Regions from separate parts of the Homo sapiens genome. Here region 2 is linked to region 1. The links come from fine-mapping of genetic effects on gene expression. A gene starts in region 1. The other region holds a variant in brackets. All regions are shown on one strand. Distances are between the middles of the regions. Region 1 holds the start of XYLT2 (xylosyltransferase 2). Region 2 has its middle 15 kb from the start of TMEM92-AS1.

Region 1 (12,182 bases):
GAGGAAATTAGTCAAACGTGAAGTCAAGAGAGACCCAAGATCCTGGACATCTTGGACTCGGCTGGGTTGGGTTCTCTGTGCTCCTCACCTCCCCAGGACTTCCCCCAACCTACCCACTACCCTACCCACACCCTACCCACTACCAGTATGGGCACATCAGGAACCTCATGCTGTCAGGCTGACAGCTACCTTCAGGCCAGAGCCCCATGCCTACATCCATGCCCTCTGTGCCTAGCACCCAGCCAGCCTTCTGATCTTTTTATTTTATTTATTTTAATAGAGATAGTCTTGCTATGTTATCCAAGCTGGTCTCGAACTCCTGGACTCAAGCGCTTCTCCCACCTTGGCCTCCCAAAGTGCTGAGATTACAGGCATGAGCCACAGTGCCCGGTTGCCCTCTGATCTCTTAAAGGTGGCCAGTGGGAGCTGGGGGCGCCCATTCCCATCCGAGAAGAGATACCTGCAAGAGGAGGCAGCAGACCCTATTCTCTACCCACACTGGGGAGGGCACCACAGGCTGGGGAATCCCTAGGAAAGGTAAATGCAGCCCCACTGAGCTGAGTGTGCATCAGCCTGGTGACATGTGAGCTGGCTACAGAGCACAAGCAGAGAAAGACATTCCCAAGCTTAGGTGGGTAGATGGCAGAGAGCTGTAGGCTCTCCGAGTGGAAGCCAGTATCAGTGAGTTAGGAAGCTGGTCAGGAGGGCAGGGCATGAGGCACGGGGCCAGGTTGGCTGTGGTGGGGGCCAGGATGTGGGAGGAGATGGGCATGTTGGTCCCTGCACTGCAGTGGGAGCTGGCTGACCCTGAGAAGGACAATCCCAGAGGAGGCTGGGGGATGAGGAGGCAGCAGTGAGGGAGCAGAGGCCCTGGTGGGCAGTCAGCCCCCACCTCCATCCCTTCCAGGCATGTCCAAGGAGCATCGTCATCACAGCCCCAGCCTTGTGCCCCTCACAGGCTGCCCCCAGCAGCCCCTGAGGTCAGGAGCCCTTCTGATGACTGAGGGTAGGGAATGGTCCTCTGACTTCTGGCTGGGATACATTCTGGCCTCAGAGGCTCCTTCCTCTCCTCCAAGGAGGCGATTAAAATCCTCTGCCACTTCCTGGCTCTGTAGCTCCACCTTAGAATCCTTCTCTGAGTCACAGAAAGGGTGAACACAGAAATGCTCCCCCCATACCCCACCTCCTTTGACTTCTCGGGCTGCATTTAAAACAAGTGGTGAGATGGTGTTTGTGGAAGCTTTGGAAACTATAAAGTGGCTCTCTGGAGGTTCGTGACCATCCCTGGGATCCACTCTCAGCCTCTCCATAGATGGGCAGAGTGCACGTCTTAAATGCACACTGAATCCTGTGCTGCTTAAACCCCTTCAGTGCTCTCCCACTGCACTTAGAATAAAACCCTTGCCCCTTGCTCTGGTCCTTTCAGCCGCACAGAATGGAACCTTCTTTCAGGGAAAGCACCACACCCTCCTGTCCATTCCTCAAGGGTGCCCAGCTAAGCCCATTCTCCTCAGGCCTTCTGCCTGAACTCTCCTGCCCACCTCTTCCTGTGAGAAGCCTTTCCTGACCCCCTGATCTAAGCCAACCCCTTTGTAATTCTATTAAATTCCTTTTCGCTGTCTGTTTCTCTCTGTAGATTACCTGTCCATGAGGGCAGAGACCTCATCTATTTTATTTTTGTATCCCCAGTATTAGCACAGTGTCTAGTACAAAGTAGGACTTCACACCTATTTGTGGAATGAATGAATGAATGAATGAATCGTATTCCCAATGCACAGTGCTGGGATAATAAGAGTTATTTATTTACTGACAGCTGAGCATGTGCCAGGAACTCCTGCAAGTGCTTCACAGGCATCATTTTCACTTAATCTTTATAATCACCTAACACGGGAGGTGCCATTATTATCCCCATCTTGAGGAGGGATACTGATAAGGATAAGGGAGGAGGCAAAGTGATTTGCTGGTGGTCTTCTCAGGGTCAGAGCTGGAAGAGAGTGGTGAAGTGGGTGGTCCAGCTTCAGCACTCACCTTCCCATGCACCCCGTTATGCTGCCTGGCAACCCCAGAGTCAGGTGAGGGAGCAGCTGAGGGGGTCCAAGCAGCAATGGGTGCCTGGACCGCACAAGCTTTTTCAAACATTCCAGCCCAGGATTCCCCTATTCATTCAGCCAGGAAGCTGGAGGAGGAGGTGGTGGGGGATGGGGGCGGTAGCCCAGAGTGGTCACATATTCCAGGGTCAGAGGGCTCCCTAACTGCTTTGGCAGCCCATTCCATCTTGGAATGTCCCATCTGCCCAAACAGTCTTCTTACACTGGGCCTGAAACACTCTCCTACTTGCTTGTCCTACTTGTAGGTCTACACCCCACGGATGTCACGGAGCCAGCCCCACCCCCGCCCCCACCTCCTTTTGGAGTTATGGTCTCATGTGACTCTGTTCCAGCCCCCATCACCATCCCACCCTCTGGGTTCTCCCAAAAAAAGGCAAGGGCAGCTCTTCTGTCTCCACACCAGGCCTTCCAGACTGGCGAGATGCGGTAAGGGGTCGCGGGTATCGGGGCTTGCCGGAGGACAGCAGCAGATAGAGTCTCTGACCCGGAGCCCTGGAGGCAGCAGAACAGGGGCGCTGGGGGCAGGGAGGTCCTGACCTCTGGGCCACAGCTTAGGGCTGTGGTGTGGCCTGTCCTCTCCATCTCCGCAGCACGAACCCAGACCCAATGGACCCTTCCTCACCACACCGCTGAGGTGTCTGAGCCTCCCGCTGAAACCACATCGGGGAAGAGGGAGAAAGACCCTCGAGGCAGGGACTTGGGGGCTGAGACGGCTGTTGGTTGCCCCTGCTCTGCGGCTGGGGCTCTGTTACAGTCCCCATTCCCTTAAAGCCAGAGGGCCCCTCCCTAATTCCCTAAGGTCCTGAGGCCAACTCACCAGCTCAGTTCCTCCTCTCCCTGCCCTCCGGAGACCCATCCAGGTTCTTCAAACCCCCGGCTGAGGAAGCCACACCTCGGGAATACTCCAGTTCTCTCCTTCGGCGTCACTCCCTGTTCCTTCAGTTCCCGGGTACACACTTTGTCCCAGGCCTGAATTCCACCCCCGAGCTCCCCTTCCTCACCGGCCGCTGCCCCTCGGGCTCAGCTGGGGAAGGACGCCCTGAGTCCCTTGGCCCTACTCCTCCGCCCACGGCGCGCATATCCCCGCCCCCTCCCAACTTCAGAAAGTTTGGCCTGGGGCTCCCCACCTCCGAGCAGGTTCGGGCCCAGCCCCGCCTCCCAGCCCCGCTCGCCGCGCCTGACCTTCATCGCTCCCTTGGCCGGAGACCACCCTAGCATGACCTGCTCCCCCCGCCCGACTCCCAATCCACCAGGGCCCGGGTCTCCAGGTCACGCACTGCCCCCGCGCGCAGCTCCCTAGGCCTGCTGGGGAAGGGAGTGCCGGGGGCCGGATGCTCCGCTCTGGGCGACCGCCGGCGCCCCGCACGCACGCACGCGGCCCGTGCCCCACTTCCCCGGCTGGGGCCGCCCGCAGCCCCGCCAGGACCCCGCGCGCCCCCGCGCCCGGCCTGCCCGCCCGCCCGGCCGTCGGAGCACCTCGCCCGCCTCGTCCTCCTCCAGGCCGCTGAAGCTCCACACTACCAGGCCCTGCAGCAGCAGGATGGCCAGCGCCGTGGCAATCGCCAGCTTGTAGCGCCGCACCAGCTTCTGCACTCGCGCGCTCGCCACCATCTTCCTGCCCGGGACGCGGGGCGCGCGCCCAGCCCTGCAACCCGGCCGCGAGCGCGCGCACGGGCGCGGGGCTGAGCCGCCCCCCCTCCTCCACGCCTAGGGAGGCGGGCCGGGCGCGCGCCGGGGCGGGGCCGGGGGCGGGGCCTGCGGGGCCAAAGCACGGCGCACCGCAGGCTAGGGGTGGAGCCGGGGCTCGCAACACCTTCAGTCCCGGCAGTCGCGGGCGTGGGCTTGAGCGCGTGCCTTCTGCGCTCGTGTCTCCGCCGGTGCCCCTGGCTCCCACGTGTGCTCCCCTCCACCTGGACGGCGAGCGCCTGGTGCTGGGGAGTGGAGGGTCTGCGGCACAACCTCTCTTGCCTGGTGTCGGGGGTCGTGGGCGAGTTCAGTCCCACGCGGGTAAGCTCTCGGTCCCGGGGGCCCAGGGAACGCCAGGGCTCCCAGAGACGCCGCCTTGGGAGAGGGCGTGTGAGAGCCACAGGCGTCTGCTTAAAAACCTGGAGGCCGCACCTGCGGGGCAAAGTCTAACCCCTTGACTGGCATCAGAGAGCCTTCACGAATCCTCCTTTCCGCTCTGCGCTCATCCTAAGCATCCTCAGGCCGCTCCCAGAGTCGTGGTTCTCAAACTACTCTAGCGTGTGTTGGAGTCTCTTGGAGGTCTTGATAAAACAGATTTTTAGTGCCCCTCCTCCCTCCCCCAGAGTGTCTGCTTTGGTAGGTCGGTAGTGAGGCCTAAGCATTAGAATTTTCAGCAGGTTCCCAGGTGATGCTGATGCCTTTGCTCTGGGACCAAACTTGGAGAACCAGTAGACCTCGACACATGCTGCTCCCTCTGCCAAGTCCCCACCCCCTACACCATCAGTGGCATCCTCCCTGTGCGTCCCCAGCACTGTGCAGTGAGCACCAATCATACATCCGGTCGTGACTGCTCTGGGATCTCGCCCTGCCTTGGACACCCAGCAATGCTCAAGAAATGTTGCGGAAAGCAAGCAGGGGAGGCCCAGATTCCCGTCTAACCAGCTGTCCCTAACATTTGTTTGAGAACCCGGCGTGTTCAATGAGCACCGCATTGGACAAGGTCTAAGCACCTGCGGCCTTCCCTAAGCCTGGCAGGCCCATGGAGAGAGGGAAGGCGAGAAGAGCAAAACAGTGGCCACCAAAGCAAGGTGAATCCCCAGCTGGGGAAGCCAGGCACTGGGAGGAGGAAGTCATAAAAATAGCAAACACAAGTTAGAAGGTTTAAAGGGAAGACGTTAGGAACCACTACAGAGAGGTCTGGAAAGAGAAGTGGCTTACAAAAAAAAAAGTTTGAAAAGTTAGAAGGCCATGATGGAGGGGTTTGGAAGTTGCCACAAGGTTGGGTTGATGAGAGAATTCTAAACTGATGTGTACAGGATACACAAGCATTTGATGGTACATAAATAACCTCCTTTAATCGTCTTCTGCGCTTTAGCATTTGTAATCATTCTGTTCCTCCGCGTTTGTTAAATGGGAGAATTGTAAACTATGTTTCCGACGACAGTTTGGCTACTTAAGAGAGCCTACACTTCAATGATTTTGGAAAACATCAGTTGACATCCCGGCAATTGATATGTTAATTAAATATTGATCTTGTGTGCTCATTAAATCAGATCCTCTAGGGACTTCTACCTGCCAAGAATTCCCCCCACAACAATGAAAATAGCTTTATTTTTCACTGATTATATAAGTAATAAATATCCATTATATAACATTTAAACACTAAACGAATAAGAAAAAAAGTAAAAGTCACCTACAATCCCACCCCTTAAGATGATCATCATTAACATTTTAGTGGCTATCCTTTCCTTTCCTTTCCCCCATTTCTCTCTTTTTTTTTTTTTTTTTTTTGAGACGGAGTCTGCTCTGTTGCCCAGGCTGGAGTGCAGTGGCGCGATCTCGGCTCACTGCATGCTCTGCCTCCCAGGTTCACGCCATTCTCCTGCCTCAGCCTCCCAAGTAGTAGCTGGGACTACAGGCGCCCACCACCACGACTGGCTAATTTTTTTTTTTTTTGTATTCTTAGGAGAGACGGGGTTTCACCGTGTTAGCCAGGATGGTCTCAATCTCCTGACCTCATGATCTGCCCACCTCAGCCTCCCAAAGTGTTGGGATTACAGGCGTGGCCACCGCGCCTGGCTTTTTTTTTTTTTTTTTTTTTTTTTTTTTTTTTTTGAGTCTCGTTCTGCCACCCAGGGTGGAGTGCAGTGGTACAATCCCGGCTCACTGCAACCTCTGCCTCCCGGATTCAAGAAATTCTCCTGCCTTGGTCTCCCGAGTAGCTGGGGTTATAGGTGCGCGCCACCATGCCCGGCTTATTTTTGTATTTTTAGTAGAGACGGGGTTTCACCATGTTGGCCAGGCTATTCTCAAACTCCTGACCTTGTGATCCACCTGTCTCGGCCTCCCAAAGTGCTGGGATTACAAGCATGAGCCGCCGAGCCCAGCCCACTGTTGTTTTTTTTTTTTTTTTTTAAACAAATTCGTTATCTGGTTATTGTGGTGCCTGTAATTCCCAGCTACTCAGGAGGCTGAGATAGGAGGATCGCTTGAGCCCAGGAATTTGAGACCAGCCTGGGCAACATGGCAAGTTGTCTCTAAAAAATAATTAAAAATAAAATCCCAGATTATTGAGGTATAGCATGCATAGACTGGCTTAGATTTCACCATATAAATTGCAAGAATCATTGTTTCCCTCTGTCTCCTCTTCGGGTTCTCTAATAGGTTCCATTGTGCTTTTTTCTTTTATTGTAAAAAGTCTTGAAAATACAAAATGGTTTTCAGAAAAGCAGAATAGGAAAGCAGTCTTTAGTCATAATTGGGCTGCCTGCATGATATATTCTTTCTTATGTGAAGAAATGATCCTTATAGTCTTCATTTTTAGGGCTACTTTATGAGGCATGTATGCTGAATGTTTTCAAATGCATTTGCAGCAGCTAGAGTCCGAATTTGGTCCAACACCAGCAGGCATGGAGGTCCCTGCAGGAAAACCTCCAGGCTGTGCCTCCAAGCATCTCCTCGGGCTCTGTCCCGTGGCCTTTATCTGCTTTCTGCTTATCCATCCAGTTCCTTCTGATTGACACTTTACTAGGCTGTCTGCTGGCCCTGATCCTGGCTTTCCCTCTGGATGCTACCTTTGCGTGTACCCTCTGCCAGTCCACACCCACGCCAGCTCTGGATCCCTGGGTCCCTGCTTGTCAGGAAGTTCTAACACCTAGTGAAAGGATCATATGGGTTTTTCTAGCATGACCTAATGAGATTATGAAATATTTTAAAAATAATTTCCACATATTAAAACATTTTTGCATCCCTAGAATGAATGTTACTTGGTATTAGCAGCTGTTTTTTTTCTTTAAGTTGTAGTATAAGTTCAATTGGATTTACTAATATTTTATTTATTTATTTATTTATTTATTTATTTATTTATTTATTTGAGATGGAATCTCGCTCTGTTGCCAGGCTGGAGTTCAGTGGCACAATCTTGGCTCACTGCAACCTCTGCCTCCCGGGTTCAAGCGATTCTCCTGCCTCAGCCTCCCGAGTAACTGGGACTACAGGCACACATCACCACACCCAGCTAATTTTTCTGTTTTTAGTAGAGATGGGATTTCACCATGTTGGCCAGGATGGTCTCAATCTCTTGACCTCATGATCCGCTGGCCTGGGCCTCTCAAAGTGCTGGGATTACAGGTGTGAGCCACCGCACCTGGTCTTATTTATTTATTTATTATTTTGAGACAGGGTCTCACTCTGTCTCTTGGACTGGAGTACAGTGGCATGATTATAGCTCACTGTAACATTGAACTCCTGGACTCAAGTGATCCCCCGCTTCAGCTTCCTGAGAAGCTGAGACCACAGGTGCACCACCATGCTCAGCTAATTTTTAAAAAATTTTCTGTAGACACAGGGTCTCACTATGTTGCACAGGCTGGTCTCGAACTCCTGGGCTCAAGGGATCCACCTCAACCTCCCAAAGTGCTGGGATTACAGGCATGAGCCACCATGCCCGGCCTAAGAATGTTTACATCTATGTTTGTAATGGAGATATACCAGAAGCTGCAAAATCAGAGGTAACTTGTAGGCCTTGTTTATTTGACCAGCACAGGGTTTTGAAGCATTTGAGTTTGAATTCCTGAAGAAGGGGTGCACACTCACCAGTGCCTGCAGCTCCCACCTTTTCCTTTCATTTCATACCCAATCAGCTGCACCCATTTATGTTATTTTCTGGCTCTTGTAGACACCCCCAGTTTGTGGTTTTCTTTTCTCGTTGTTAAAGCTTTGGTAGATTTGGGAATCAGTTATTCCAGTCTACAACATAAGTTGAAGAGCATTTTTTAAATTCTGTTTTTGAAATAATTTATGTAACAGTAGACACTGCTATTCCTTAAGCATTTGAAAAGTCTTGCTAGCAAAAGCATCTAACAGGAGCCCTTTGAGAGCTAATTCTTTGGTAACTTCTGTTAAATAAAAATTATAGGAGGGCCAGGCATGGTGACTCACACCTGCAATCCCAGCACTTTGGGAAACTGAGGCAGGAGGATTGCTTGAGCCTAGGAGTTTGAGACTAGCCTGGGCAACATAGTGAGACCCTGTCTCTATAAAAATAAAAAAAAATTAGCCAGGCATGGTGGTGCACGCCTATAGTCCTAGCTACTAGGGAGGCTGAGGCAGGAGAATCATTTGAGCCCAGAAGGTTGAGAGTGTAGTGAGCTATGATTGTGCCACTGCACTCCAGCTTGGGCAACAGAAGGAGATCCTGTATAAAAAAAAAAAAAAGTATATATATATGGCTAATTTCCTGTGCTAGACCCCAACATACCAGACTAAAAATCAAAATGGAGTCACTATCTGACCTTGTGAGAAATCAAGAGAGAGAAATAATGGCCAATTTCCCAAACAGGCCAGTTTAAAATTTTAATTGGCATAAGTTCCCTCTGCTTTAATCCTTACATTACAAAGTTAGCCTGAAGTAACCTGATGTTCACTCATCAGTTATTTTCTATTGTTCTGTCTCTATATTCCTGCCTTACCACAAAAAAGTAACTTTGAAAATTAATGAAGATGCTCTTTGCTCATTGCATCTGCTGTTTTCAGCCCTTCTCTGTCTGTAAGCCCAACCTCCTCTGCTGGGCTCCCTGGAATACTTTTCTATTTTATGGGTGAAGTGTTGCCTGATTCTAGAATCACAAATAAAGCCAATTAAGATCTTTAAACTATTTTTGTTGTAATTTTGACTTTTGACCATCCTCCCATCTCCTGCCAAAAAATAGCACAAAATTCTGATAGCACAAAATAACCAATAGGGGGAAAATAGAGGTATTAAAGGACAAAATATCAATTTTGAAACCCCAGCATGAGTGAATCCATTTTGATTTTTAGTCTGGTCTGTTGGAGCCTAGTGCAGGAGCTCAGTACAAAACAATGGCCTCCTATAATTCTTACTTAACAGAATCAACATCGTCATTATGAATGTTATTCTAGAGAAAAATGTAAACACTCCACTGCATCTCTCTTATTTTTCTTTTGCAGTTATTTTATTTATATTGTATGTCAACAGTATGAAGTGTTCCAAAAATGAAAGGTCCACATATCTTTCATTTTTCTATTTAGCCAGCCGAGAGCCCATATGCAATATTCGCTTCCTCTTTGGTCCTCTAGTTGTCTAAAAAGCCTGTGGGGTGGGCACGTGTAATTCACCCGGGGATATGAACTGGGCTTCCACACCCAAGCTGAAGAGCACTGGTGATGGAATATTCTGCTCCTGCAAATCATCTTACTTCTACATGGGGTTGCTATAGGAAGCTGGTCCATAATTAGAAGTTGCCCATACGGGCTTTCACTGCTCCTCTGATCCACTTCCTTGACCTGCTTACTAAGCCTAGACAAAGTGCCCATTACTTGGACTCCCAGGGTTGCAGTCTCAGTGCTCAGCTCTTTCACCCCCAGATTCTATTGGCTAGTATATTTCCACTGTGAGAAGTAGAAACTCTGTCTCCACTCCATTCCAAGTGACTGAAACATTAATGAGGCCAGGTGTGGTGGCTCACACCTGTAATCCCAGCACTTGGGAGGCCAAGTGGGGGTGGATCATTTGAGGTCAGGAATTTGAGACCAGCCTGGCCAACATGGTGAAACCCTGTCTCTACTAAAAATTCAAAAATTAGCTGGGCATGGTGGCACGTGCCTGTAATCCCAGCTACTCAGGAGGCTGAGGTAGAAGAATTGAACCCGGGCGGTGGAGGTTGCAGTGAGCCAAGATCAGGCCGCTGCACTCCAGCCTGGGTGACAGAGCTAGGTTCGGTCTCAAAAAAGAAATAAATTAATAAATAAAATAATGAGGGGAAGGTTGGAAAGTTCATACTTTGACCCACTCTCTATTCTCCAAATACTTAACAATGAGAGATAAAGTTTTTAAAGGCATTGATAAGATATATACAAGCTTAAAAACAGGATAAACATTTAGGTGGATAAGAAAGAGAACAAACTGGAAAGCAAAGTGGTGAGTAGGACCAAAGCCAAGGGCCTATGGGGTAATGGGAACTAAAATGTTGCACAGGGAATGGGGGATGGAACCAGACTCTGGCAGCAGCCACAGACTAGAGTGAGGCTACCCTGCTTGTGAAAGGAGACTGAAAACAAAAAGTGCAGCTGACCAGATCTCAGGAGCTATGGCCCAAATGGTGGACCTAGGAAGGCTGCAGAACAAAAACAGCCTCACAACCCAGACTTAGGTCAAGCCATCCTCTAACTCTGGGTCTGCACATCTCCCAATATCAGTGAAGAGCATGAGTTCCCAACCACTATCACAAAACTATTTCTGGACTAGGGCACAGTGAATGCCATGACGAAACTAAACCCACCAGACAAAAAAGGAGAGAGTAAAAAGCACAATGCAAAAACAAAAATTCTCAGCTACAATGAGCCTGTAAACCCAAATTCCAAAGGACATGAAGAAATGGAATGATAAAAAAGATAGCCAAGCAATTCAACAACTGGAATATGAACTTTCTCCACATGAAATTCATCTCTTGGACTCATATGACAAAGACTTGAAAATAAGGATGGCTCAAAGAAGTAAATGAAGAAATCATCTGACAAACAAGAAATTATGAAACAAATGTAGATGAAAATGAAATGAAGATATACATATGAAATATAAATAATTATACATCTCAGAAATAAAAATGTAGAAAAGCAATAAAAATATCTCAAAAGATAGGGTGAACTTTAGACTGGATATAGTTGAAGATAAAATTAGTGAATTGGAAGATAGCTCTAAAGAATTGACAGTGAATGCAGCAAAAAGAGGTACTTTGATTAAAAATAAGAACAGTTTGAAGAGTAGGAGAATAGATTGAGAGACTCAAACTATGTATAACAGGATTTCCAGAGTAAGAAAATAAGGAAAATGGCAAGGAAATAATATTGAAGCTATGATAGCTGAGATTATTTCAGAATTCAAGGAAAATATTAGTAACATACAAGAGGATTTTGATTTTTAAAACTCAATCTGATACTCTAAGTTTTACTGTTTCTTTAATCAGTTTACATTTAGTGCCATTAATGGATTATTTGGATTTTCTTTGATTATGATTATTCCACATTTTCTGCTCACTGCCTTCTTTCTCCACTTTTTTTCCCTTTACTATATTCTGTTGGATTGGTAAAATCTTCTATTCTCCTTTTTCTCTTCCAGCAGTACCAGGGTTGGTACAGCTTTTATCAACTTACTTAATGGCTTTCCTTAATATTTTCTGTGCTATTCACTCCATTGGTGAGGGAGGGATTCCCATCCTAGGTTTACAGAGATGGCCAAACACACGACATTTGATTCTGGGCAGATGAGATTGACAGTAGTGTATTAGTCACATATACTCATAGCCCAGGGCAGGATATCACACACCATGCAGGGCCACACAGGGGTTGCGCTCAGAGACAGTGAGCAACTAAGGGCTGTGGGAGGCAGGCTTTGTAGTATCAAGAGGATGAGATGTCCCCTAGTTTCAGCAGGAAGATGTGACTGGCTTATGTGGATAATTATGCAGGCTGCAGGCTGGCAGGAAACTGAAACCCACTACTCAGGAATAAGCAGGAAGTGCTCCTGGTCCCCTTGATAAGGGGGGTTATTTGGCTGGGGGACCTTATCCAAGGGAGCAGAGTGAGGAGGTGAACTTGTGGCTAGGCCAGTCAAAGCCTCCCAATTTCACCGCATATAAAGTCAGTATCAGCATTTAATACTGCGCCTGAGTTTTAGGCCTTAAACGCATTTTGCTGTTAATTTTCCTTTCAGGGCTATATAGACTGTTCGTCTGCTATAATCTTCCTTAATAATTTAGAAAGCAAGAATTAGAATTCTTTAAAAAAATTTTTTTTTCTTTTTTTAGACAAGGAGCATCTTACTATATTGCCCAGGCTGGCCTTGAATTCCTGGACTCAGGTGATCCTCCC
Region 2 (11,033 bases), 40 kb after region 1:
TTATTTTATTTTTTATTTTTATTTATTATTATTATTTTGAGATGGTGTCTCGCTCTGTTGCTCAGGCTGGAGTGCCATGACATGATCTCAGCTCGCTGTAGCCTCTGCCTCCCAGGTTCAAGCGATTCTTGTGCCTCAGCCTCCAGAGTAGCTGGGACTACAGGTGCCCATCATCACACCCGGCTAATTTTTGTATTTTTAGTAGAGACGAGGTTTCCCATGTTGGCCAGGCTGGTCTTTAACTCCTGACCTCAAGTGATCCACCCACCTCGGCCTCCCAAAGTGCTGGGATTACAGGCATGAGCCACCACACCCAGCCACAATAAATTTTTAGACAAATAACAAGACCAGGGGAAAGGACTTGGAATCTCTAGGGGTGGCAGATTGTGAGAACACAAATAAATTGTATATAGAGGCTAGCTTGTAAGGTTTGTTATGGAGATTGTTCTGTTGCTGATAAGGGTCTAAAGCTGTCTCTGGTGGCCAAACTTTGTCCTTCCTGGTAGATGGGGGGAGGGCACCTTTGTAAGTTTATGTCCTACTTTTAGGCAAATAGCGGGAGAGCAGAGGCCTCCTTATATCTGCTTCATCTCAATTGTCTTAAACTCAAAATAATCCTTGTGCCAAAGGGGCACAGTTTGGGGTGGCATATTCTGGTCTCCTACATCTCTCTGCAAGGGGAATTGATGTTTTCACTCTTTTGCAGAATCAGACCTTTTAATGACTAAATTGACACTGTTCTGTGACCTGAAGGGACTGGAGAAAAGATGGCCAGAGTTGTCAGGGGCCTGCCTGGGTTTCCAGCCACAGAGGGGAAGAACTAGCCTGGCAGGATTGAGAGGCAGCTAACCGTCTCCCTGCGGCAAGTGTGGGGGTCAAACTCACCCTCTTTACAAGTCAACTCAACTGCCCGAGTTGGGCAACTTCACAAAGATGAGGTAAGTGAACTGGACCTTTAACAAGGAAAGGCACAAAAGGCCAGAGGAGAAGGAAATAACCTGACTTTGTATTTGTGCACCTGGGGAGATATGCAGCCCTCCTAGATTAAGACCAATCCCCTCAAACAATGAAAGAGATTAAAGGCCCTGGCACAATGAAACAAATAAAAGGGCCAGATGCGGTGGCTCACACCTGAAATCCTAGCACTCAGGGAGGCTGAGGCAGGTGGACTGCTTGAGCTCACGAGTTCAAGACCAGCCTGGGCAACATTGTGAGACCCCCCCCCCCCCATCTCTACCAAAAATACAAAAATTAGCTGGGCATGGTGGCATGTGCCTGTGGTCCCAGCTACTCCAGAGGCTGAGGTGGGAGGATGGCCTGAGCCCAGGAAGTCAAAGCTGCAGTGAGCCGTGATGGCACCACTGCACTCCATCCTGGGTGACAGAGCAAGAACCTGTCTCAAAACAAACAAAAAAGATAAAAGTCATTGTCATCTCTATCATCTCATCAAGATACAAAGACCCAATCCCAGCACTTTGGGGAGCTGAAGCAGCATGATGGCTTGAGCCCAGGAGTTCGAGACCAGCCCAGGCAACAAAGCGAGAGTGAGACCCAGGCTTTATTAAAAAAAAAAAAAAAAAGATCAAGGGGTCCTTTGGAGATTGATGCTAACCCAGCCCCACTAGACACCATGGAGACTTTACCTTGTGCAGGGCCAGTTCTGAGTGGTGTCTTTGTTATGGTATTTAAATTTCTCCTGCTGACTAAGTTAGTCTGAGTTGGGTTTCTTTTTTTTTTTTTTGATGGAGTCTCACTCTGTTGCCCAGGTTGGAGTGCAGTGACTCAGTCTTGGCTCACTGCAACCTCTGCCTCCCGGGTTCAAGCAGTTCTCCTGCCTCAGCCTCCCAAGTAGCTGGGATTACAGGCATGCACCACCACACCCAGCTAATTTTTTGTGTCTTTAGTAGAGACAGGGTTTCACCATGTTGGCCAGGCTGGTCTCAAACTCCTGACCTCGTGATCTGCCTGCCTCAGCCTCCCGAAGTGCTGGGATTACAGGTGTGAGCCACCGCACCCGGCCTGAGTTGGGTTTCTGTTGCTTCTGACTGAGAGCAATACCCGTATGTGGATGAGTGGAATGAAAACCACCCGGGACTCCTGAGCTGGGACCATGGGAAGCGACCTCCCATTACAATGTCAGGGGACAGTCATGTAAACATCTCAACTCCTAAAGGGCCTGTCATGTCAAATTGAGGTGCTGAGCATCTCCTGGCCATCCCTTTGGAGGTTGACAGTGAGGAATTATTTTGACCAGCTTCTTAGAATGTGTGTGTGGGAGAGCAGTGCCGAGCAAGGTAGAAATGTGACTGGGAAGGATGCAACAGAATTTCTACTTTCTAAAAGAAAGTGGAAGGGAAAAACACTGAAATCTAAATCTTCCTTTGAAAAAGCTATTAATAACAGGTGTGGCACAGGGAATGTTTAGGGCAGTGAAACTATTCTATATGATACCATAATGGTGGATACATATCATTATGTTTGTCGAAAGCTATAGAATGTACAATGTGAAGAGTGAACCCTCAAGTAAATGATAGACTTTGATTAATAATAATGCATCAACATTGGCTCAGTTGTAACAAATACACCACCCTAATGCAAGATATTAATATAGGAGAAACTGTGGGCATAGGGGATAGAGAAATATGAGGGACTGTCTGTACTTCCCACTCAATGTTTCCATAAGCCTAAAACTACTCTCAAAAGAGTCTACCAATTAATTAAAACAAAGCTAACAATATAAGGTCATATTTCTAGTCTCATCCAATAAAAAATTATAGTGCGGGGTACAACTGTATTTTCTTCAAAAAAAACCATTCAGTCCAGGCGCAGTGGCTCACGCCTGTAATCCCAGCACTTTGGGAGGCCAAGGAGGGTGGATCACTTGAGGTCAGGAGTTTGAGACCAGCTTGGCCAACATGGTGAAACCCTGTCTCTACCAGACAGGCCAACATGGTGAAACCCTTTCTCTACTAAAAGTACTAAAATTAGCCAGCTGTGGTGGCAGGCACCTATAATCCCAGCTACTCAGGAGGCTGAGGCAGGAGAATTGCTTGAACCCAAGAGGCAGAGGTTACAGTGAGCCAAGATCAGGCCACTGCACTCCAGCTTGGGAGACAGGAGCAAGACTCCATCTCAAAAACAAAACAAACAAACAAACAAAAAAACCGCTCAACACACAGAAAAAATGATGGAAGCCCCAATTTTGTCACACTTCAAATCAGTACAGACCCCCCAGATTCATACACTAAGAGTTTTCCAAAGTTTTCACTATGTTCATTTTCACAGTTTGAACAATCCAATTATTTATCTTAGAAAAATGCCAGAGCCTTGGACAGATAAGCCATATCTAGAACTCTAAGAAACGAATTCATCTACATGTTTTCCACCTCTGGGCAGTCTCCCTCCCCAAGGACAACATTCTTTGCCAAATAAGTCTTGATTCCAACTTGGAAGGGAAGAAGTTTATAAACACACAGGCACAGAGACACACAAAGGCTTCCTGGAGTCTCACAGTTCAGTGAATGAGTCTGTGGCGCTCGCCACTGTTCCCAGATCGCTAGCTGAGTGCTTCACCACATTCCTTTCCCACTCACTTGTCTCCAGCCCACGTTTTGGGGTTCCCCTCCTCCAGGCAGGCAGCCCGGGGCCTGCCGCAAGGGGAGGTGGCCCCTCTCTGTTCTTTGTGAGGACTGGATGCCCATGCCTCTCTCAGCCTAGTTGGGCACCTTGCCCTGTATACTCCTTGGGGACAGCCTCCCTCTGCCAGCTGTCACACAGCAGACAGCCCAACAGACTTCCTCTCATGTAACAGCATGTAATATGTAACATCACCATGTAACCATGCACATAATACTATGTAACATCAGCATGTAACAGTGCATGTAAGATGATGTAACATTATGTAACATCAGCATGGAACATTGTACGTAATGTTGCATGTAACTGCATGTAACATCACATATAACAGCATGTGACATTGTGTGTGACAGCATGTAACATCAGCCTTCTTCCCATATTTCTTAACAGCCACTATGCCAGTGTTTCCCCACTTTTGTCCGTATGTGGCTAGCCAGCTCCTGCTATTCATTTGCAGCCTACACAGCCCTAATGCTACTGAAATCGTTCTCTTCCAGCCCTGCAACAGGACAGAGGAGATATTTATAAGAAATGCCTGCAGAGTGGCATCCCAGCATCCCCATGAAGCCCATCCTTTTCTGAGTCAAAGTCTCAGAAGTCATGTTCTTCCCCGAGAGATATCTGACATTGAGTTCCCAATCTTGCCTCGTGTGTGTCCACTTCTGGTCCTCAGACATGTTCCTTCCTTCACCACGATCTGGGAGACCACAGGGCATTACAGTTCCTCGCATGGCCACAGAGGCAGGCAATCTGGGTCTGAATCCTGGACTTTTGCAGTTATAGCTAAGCAACTCGGGGCAAACCTCTCTAAGCATCCCATTCTTATCTGTAAAGTGGGAATAAGAGTCACGCCTTATGATTCAAAAAACATAATTTTTTGGAGGCTGGGTGCGGTGGCTCATGCCTGTAATCCCAGCACTTTGGGAGGCTGAGGTGGGCAGATCACAAGGTCAGGAGTTTGAGACCAGCCTGACCAATATGATGAAACCCCATCTCTAATAAAAATACAAAAATTAGCTGGACATGGTGGCGGGCACCTGTAGTTCAAACTACTCAGGAGGCTGAGGCAGGAGAATTGCTGAACCCAGGAGGCGGAGGTTGCAGTGAGCCGAGATAGCGCCACTGCAGTCCAGCCAGGGCTACAGAGCGAGACTATTTCAGAAAAAAAAAAAAAAAAAAAAAAAAAGATTAAAAAAAAGATTTTAAAAAAAGTTGTAAAAAAAGAAAATAAAGAGCCACACCCACCATCTAAGGTTATACACAAGGGAACTGCTTGTTCAGCACAAGGCCTGGCTCCCGCTTAAATGCCCACAGTTGGGAGTCATTGTGTTGTCGTTTATTCTCACTTGTCTCCCCCGGGCAGTGAGAGACCCTCTGCCAACGTCACCTTGCTGGACTAAGGACTGGGGAGGCCTGAACAGCACTTTGATTGATTTATCCACCCCATGAGGTTAAATGCTCTACCCTACACCTAAATGGCTGTAGGTTACAGGGTTTTTTCCTTGTTGTTGTTTTGAGACAGGGTGTCACTCTGTCATCCAGGCTGGAGTGCAGTGGCTTGATCTCGGCTCACTGGAAACTTTGCCGCCCAAGTTCAAGTGATTTTCCTGCCTAGGCCTCCTGTGTAGCTGGGATTATAGTAGTGCACCACCACACCCGGCTAATTTTTACATTTTTGATAGAGACAGGATTTCGCCATGTTGGCCAGGCCGGTCTCAAACTCCTGGCCTCAGGTGATCCGCCAGCTTCAGCCTCCCAAAGTGCTGGGATTACAGGCAGGAGCCACTAAGCTCAGCCGCTTACAGGTATTTTTGAACATCAAATGGCTGCCCCTTCTCCGAGCCAAGGATAGAACAATCAGTCACAAAGCCGCAGGACGCCTGTTGACAAGGGCTTCACCTGGGACAACTGCTGTGTTGTACTATCGGCTTTGCCTTAACTCTTGCCGCAGCGTGTGGAGAGTCATGGCGGCTGTAGTCTAAAAGCAGCCTGGTCCTGTCCTCTAAGGCAACTGGGGCTGGGCTGAGACCCTCAAGAATGTGGCCACACATCATGGTCAATAACGTCCTCTCCTTGCCTTCCCTCAAAACCTCTCTTTGAGTTTTGAATGAGAGAGCTGGCGATTGCAGCCTCCTTTGGGATTTAATGAGGACCGTCTGATTATATTCCACCTTGGACTCCTCACAGATATTTTTCCCTCTGTCTGGAATCCCTAACAGACACATTTATACACACACACACACACACACACACACACACACACACACAGCCTGCACATAATAAACTACTGCTCTATTCTTTGATTCTTACCTTTAAAGTCAGTTCCCCAGCCTGGGCAACATAGCAAGATTCCACCTCTGTAAAAAATTAAAAAATTAGCCAGGTGGCACACACCTGTAGTCCTGGCTACCTGGAAGGCTAAAGTGGGAGGATTGCTTGAGCCCAGGAGTTGGAGGCTACACTGAGCTATGATTGGGCCACTGCACTCCAGCCTGGGTGACAGAGGAAGGACCCTGTCTCAAAAAAAAAAAAAAAAAAAGTCAGTTCCCCAGTGCTTAACACAATGCCTAGCAAACAGTGGGCTCTGATTTGCTTTTCCTTAACACATACCAGGGTGTTAATACTTTCCAGACCCATTAAGGAGTTGGTGAGCACCGTGAGGAAAATGCTAGACCAAGAACGCCACACCCAAGACATGCTAACCCCATATCGCCATTGCACCTGGTATTGCCACACAACTCCCTCCATCAGCTTCTACCAAGGTTATCAGCTTCCTGTTCCTTCTGATTCAAATCCCTCAAACTTGGGCCCTTGCTCAAGGCACTAGCCGTTATGAAACCTCTGAAACTT[T/C]CTGTGTGTAAAGCAACAGAGAAACCCCAAAAGAGAGATTGGATGATCTGACGACATCAAAATGTAAAACTTCTGAAGGTTAAAGAAACAATAAATTTAAGGGCAAGCCATAATCTAGGGAAACTGTTTGCCATGAATGTGAGGAATAAAAGGTAGTCTGCTCAGCAAATATTTATTGAGGGCCTACCCTTCACGGGGCACTGGGAACAGAACTGAAGGCTGAAGTAAAGCAGTTTGTTCAGTAGCCTCGTGTATGCCCGTGCCCAGTCACAAAAATGTGCTCATGGGAAGGGTTCCAGCCAGAGGAACCAGTATCTGTGAGGACCTCCAGGTGGGACAGAGCTTGGCACATGGAAGGGGCTGAGAAAATGATGATGTGGCTGGATACAGAGAGCGAGAGGACAAGGCTGGGAGGTGAGGGTGTGGGTGTTGGGAGAGGCCAGACCATCCCAGACCTTGGATACCTTTTTAAAAATTATTTTATTTCAAGAGATATGGGAACGTTTGGATGGATTTTAAGAGGGCTGGCCGGGCGCAGTGGCTCACGCCTGTAATCCCAACACTTTGGGAGGCCAAGGTGGGCAAATCACCCAAGGTCAGGAGTTCGAGACCAGCCTGGCCAACATGGTGAAACACTGTTTCTGCTAAAAATATAAAAATTAGCTGACTGTGGTGGCACACACCTGTAATCCCAGCTACTCAAGAGGCTGAGGCATGAGAATTGCTTGAACTTAGGAGGTGGAGGTTGCAGTGAGCGGAGATGTCACCACTGCATTCCAGCAGCCTGGGTAAGAGAATGAGACTCTGTCTCAAAAACAACAAAACAACGACAACAAAAAACATTGGAAGGGTGTGGCCTCTGCTCACTACAGAGGCACTCACTGCCTCTGTGGTCCCCCTACTCCTGGCATTGAACTCACCGCTACCATGACATGCATTCCACTGCATTGTACTGACTGGTCTCCTTGCTTCTAGGCTGTGAGCGACTGTGATAGAGTTTCTGTCTTCACCATCTCTGTGGACCTAGGGTCAGAACAGTACCTGGCACATTAGTAGTTCTCTGTCCATGTTTAATAAACCATGAAGTCACCCTACAGCACCACCTCCCTGCTTGTGTTTGGAATATGTGCTGTTATATGCTGTTCAGTGTGGCCTGTCTGGAAAGAGGCAAAGACACATGGAAACTTGAGGGTGTTACAAGCTGGAGCAAGTGGGGGCACACCCGTGCCAGCCTCCACACCACCACCAAGGAGCTGCTATTCCAGACAGTGCTTTCTTTTTTCTTTTCCTCTTTCCTTCCTTCCTTCCCTTCCTTCCTTCCTTCCTTCCTTCCTTCCTTCCTTCTTTCCTTCCTTTCCTTCCTTCCTTCTTTCCTTCCTTCCTTCCTTCCTTCCTTCCTTCCTTCCTTCCTTCCTTCCTTCCTTCCTTCCTTTCTTTCTTTCCCTCTCTCTCTTTCTTTCTTCTTTTTTTTTTTTGAGACAGAGTCTTGCTCTGTTGCCCAGGCTGGAGTGGAGTGGAGTGATCTCGGTTCACTGCAACTTCTGCCTCCCAGGTTGAAGCAATTCTCCTGCCTCAGCCTCCCGAGCAGGTGGGACTACAGGCACATGCCACCACACCTGGTTAATTTTTTGTATTTAAGTAGAGAGGAGATTTCACCATGTTGGCCAGGCTGGTCTCAAACTCCTGACCTCAGGTGATCTGCCCACCTCAACTCCCCAAAGTGCTGGGATTACAAGCATGAGTCAACACACCTGGCCTGCAGAGTGCTTTCTGTGTACCAGACCTGGGGTGAGCTCTTTCTGGTGCTGTAATCAGAAAATCCCTCTGTGCAATAGTGTTGCTGAGAGGCAGTGCCCCCAAAGAGACCTTCAGTTCCCTAGCAGCTCTGAATCTGAGCTTGATTGACACGATCAAGTAGAAACCCAAGCCGAGTGTGCACTGAGGACCCGCAACATCCACCCCTTCATTTCATCCTGTCACAAGCATGTTCTGAGCATCTGCTATGTGCCAGGCCCTGTACAAAGTGTGAGGCACAGAGGGGTCCCTAAGCCCAGAGACACACACGCCCTGCTTTCAAGGACAAGAAAGACATAAACAAATTCTTATTCAAGTGGAAACTTCATGAATTTGTGATAAATGTCTCCAAAGGAGAAAAGAAAGGGCACTAGAGGAGTGAATGCCAAGGGGATCCAGCCTCAGTGTTCCCAGGCCTCCCCAGGAGCTGACATTTCAGGCCAAGCCTAAACGCAGATAGGAATTACTGGGTGAGGGTGGAGGGAGGGGTGGAGTGGGTGAGCAGAGGAGAATTCCAGGCAGGGAAAAGGGGTGGGTGATGGTCATGAGGGCTCCTGAGTGACCCAAGCAGCTGCAGTTGCATGAGTCTCTACTAAAAATACAAAAACAAAAACAAAACAAACAAACAAAACAAATTAGCCAGGCGTGTTGTGGTGCACCTATGATCCCAGCTACTCAGGAGGCTGAGGCAGGAGAATCACTTGACCCAGGGAGCGGAGGTTGCAGTGAGACAAGATTGCAGCACTGCACTCCAGCCTGAGCGACAGAGCAAAGACTCCGTCTCAAAAAAAAAAAAAAAAAAAAGAGAAATCATATCCAAGGCTGGCCAGGTGTGGTGGCTCATGCCAGAAATCCCATCACTTTGGGAGGTGAAGGTGGGAGGATCACTTGAGCCCAGGGGTTCAAGACTAACCTAGACAACATAGTGAGACCCTCATCTCTACAAAATAAAAAAATATATATATACAATCTATATATGTATATATATTTATATGTGTGTGTATATGTACACACATGTATACATATAATATATATATGTACACACACACACACCCTGGTAGTCCCCGCTACTCGGGACCCTGAGATAGGATTGCTTGAGCCCAGGAGGTTGAATCTGCAGTGAGCTGTGATCATGCCACTGCGCTCCAGCCTGGGCAACAGAGCAAGATCCTGTCTCAGAAAAAAAAAAGAAGAGAAAGAAAAGGCGACAAGACAATATGGAGGATACACACATAATCTGATTTTTGTAAAAATGTTGTGGGCCAGGCACGGTGGCTCACACTTGTAATCCTAGTACTTTGGGAGGCCAAGGTGGGCAGATCATCTGAAGTCAGGAGTTCAAGACCAGCCTGGCCAACATGGAGAAACCCCGTCTCTACTAAAAATACAAAAATTAGCCGGGTGTGGTGGTGCATGCCTGTAATCCCAGCTACTTGGAAGGGTGAGGCAGGAGACTTGCTTGAACTCAGGAAGCAGAAGTTGCAGTGAGCTGAGATCACCCCACTGCATTCCAGCCTGGGCAACAGAGCGAGACTCCATCTAAAAAAAAAAAAAAGAAGTGTGTGTGTATAGAAAATGTCCAGAAGGATATTTACACAACACAATATTTATTGCTTTCTTCTTTAAATTATCCTATATTGTCTGATTTTTTTATAGTGAGCATGCAGAACTACTATAACCAAGAATAAACAATGCTGGCCAGGGGCAGTGGCTCACACCTGTAATCCCAGCACTTTGGGAGGCTGAGGTGGGCAAATCACCTGAGGTCAGGAGTTCAAGACCAGCCTGGCCAACATGGTGAAACCTCGTCTCTACTTAAAAAAAAAAAAATTAGCCAGGTGTGGTGGCGGGTGCCTGTATTCCCAGCTGCTTGGGAGGCTGAGGCAAGATAATCCCTTGAACCTGGGAGATGGAGGTTGCAGTAAGCAGAGATTGCACCACTGCAATCCACCCTGGGCAACAGAGCTCCATCTCAAAAAAAAAAAAAAAAAAAGGAATAAACAATACTGTGATTTCCACTTGGGGAAATAAAACTATCTTCATGTGCCCTCCTAAAAACATTGAGAGGCAGTGTGTTCTAAACCAGTCCCTCGCACTGGCTCTGACTGGCGTCCGGATTTCCTGGGGGATCTGGTAAAGTGCGGAGTCTGGGTCCGTAGGTTGCCAGCGGGGTCTGCAATCCTGTATTTCTAACAAGCTCCCAGCTGACCTGAGGCTGCTGGTCCAAGGACAACACTTTTGAGCGGTGCTATAAAGCAACCCTGGAATCAGGCCTCGGGGCCTGCCTTCGAATGTGACTTTGTCCCTAAGCCACATCCTGCCTTGGGAAGCAGTGTAGCTCTGCCTTGGGAAAAACACTCCACCACAGTGCAGGGCTCTTAGTTTCCTCTTTTGTAGAAGGTGAGACTAGAGCTGTAGTCGTTAAAACTCCCCGCTTTGTCATTGAGCCTTCTTGGCCACTAATGTGCCAGGAAACCAGCTTTTCTTTTTTTCTTTTTTTTTTTTTTTTTGAGACAGGGTCTCGATGTCACCCAGGCTAGAATGCAGTGGCTCAAACACAGCTCTGCAACCTCAACCTCCTGGACACAAGCGATCCTCCTGCCTCAGCCTTTCACATAGCTAGGATCAAAGGCACACACCACTATGCCTGGCTAATTTTTAGTAGAGATGGGGGGCTTGCTTTGTTGCCCAGGCTGGTCAACTACTGGGCTCAAGCGATCCTCCCACCTCATTCCCCCAAAGTGCTTGGGATT

What was found. PIP is the estimated chance that this variant, and not a neighbour inherited with it, causes the effect.
Region 2: its variant is fine-mapped to the expression of XYLT2 in whole blood (TOPMed, PIP above 0.99).

The regions. Positions count from the first base shown.
Region 1 is chr17:50,337,678-50,349,859 of GRCh38, reverse strand. XYLT2 (xylosyltransferase 2) reads right to left here and starts at 3,734. Exons shown (of 11, transcript NM_022167.4): 1 at 3,585-3,734. The coding sequence starts at 3,719. RefSeq lists silencers at 2,318-2,612, 3,428-3,517, 3,588-3,687, 3,748-3,947.
Region 2 is chr17:50,297,755-50,308,787 of GRCh38, reverse strand. No RefSeq gene overlaps it. Among named protein-coding and RNA genes, the nearest start is that of TMEM92-AS1, 15 kb to the right of the region's middle. RefSeq lists an enhancer at 4,770-5,752. The variant T/C (reference allele first, on the strand shown) is at 6,487.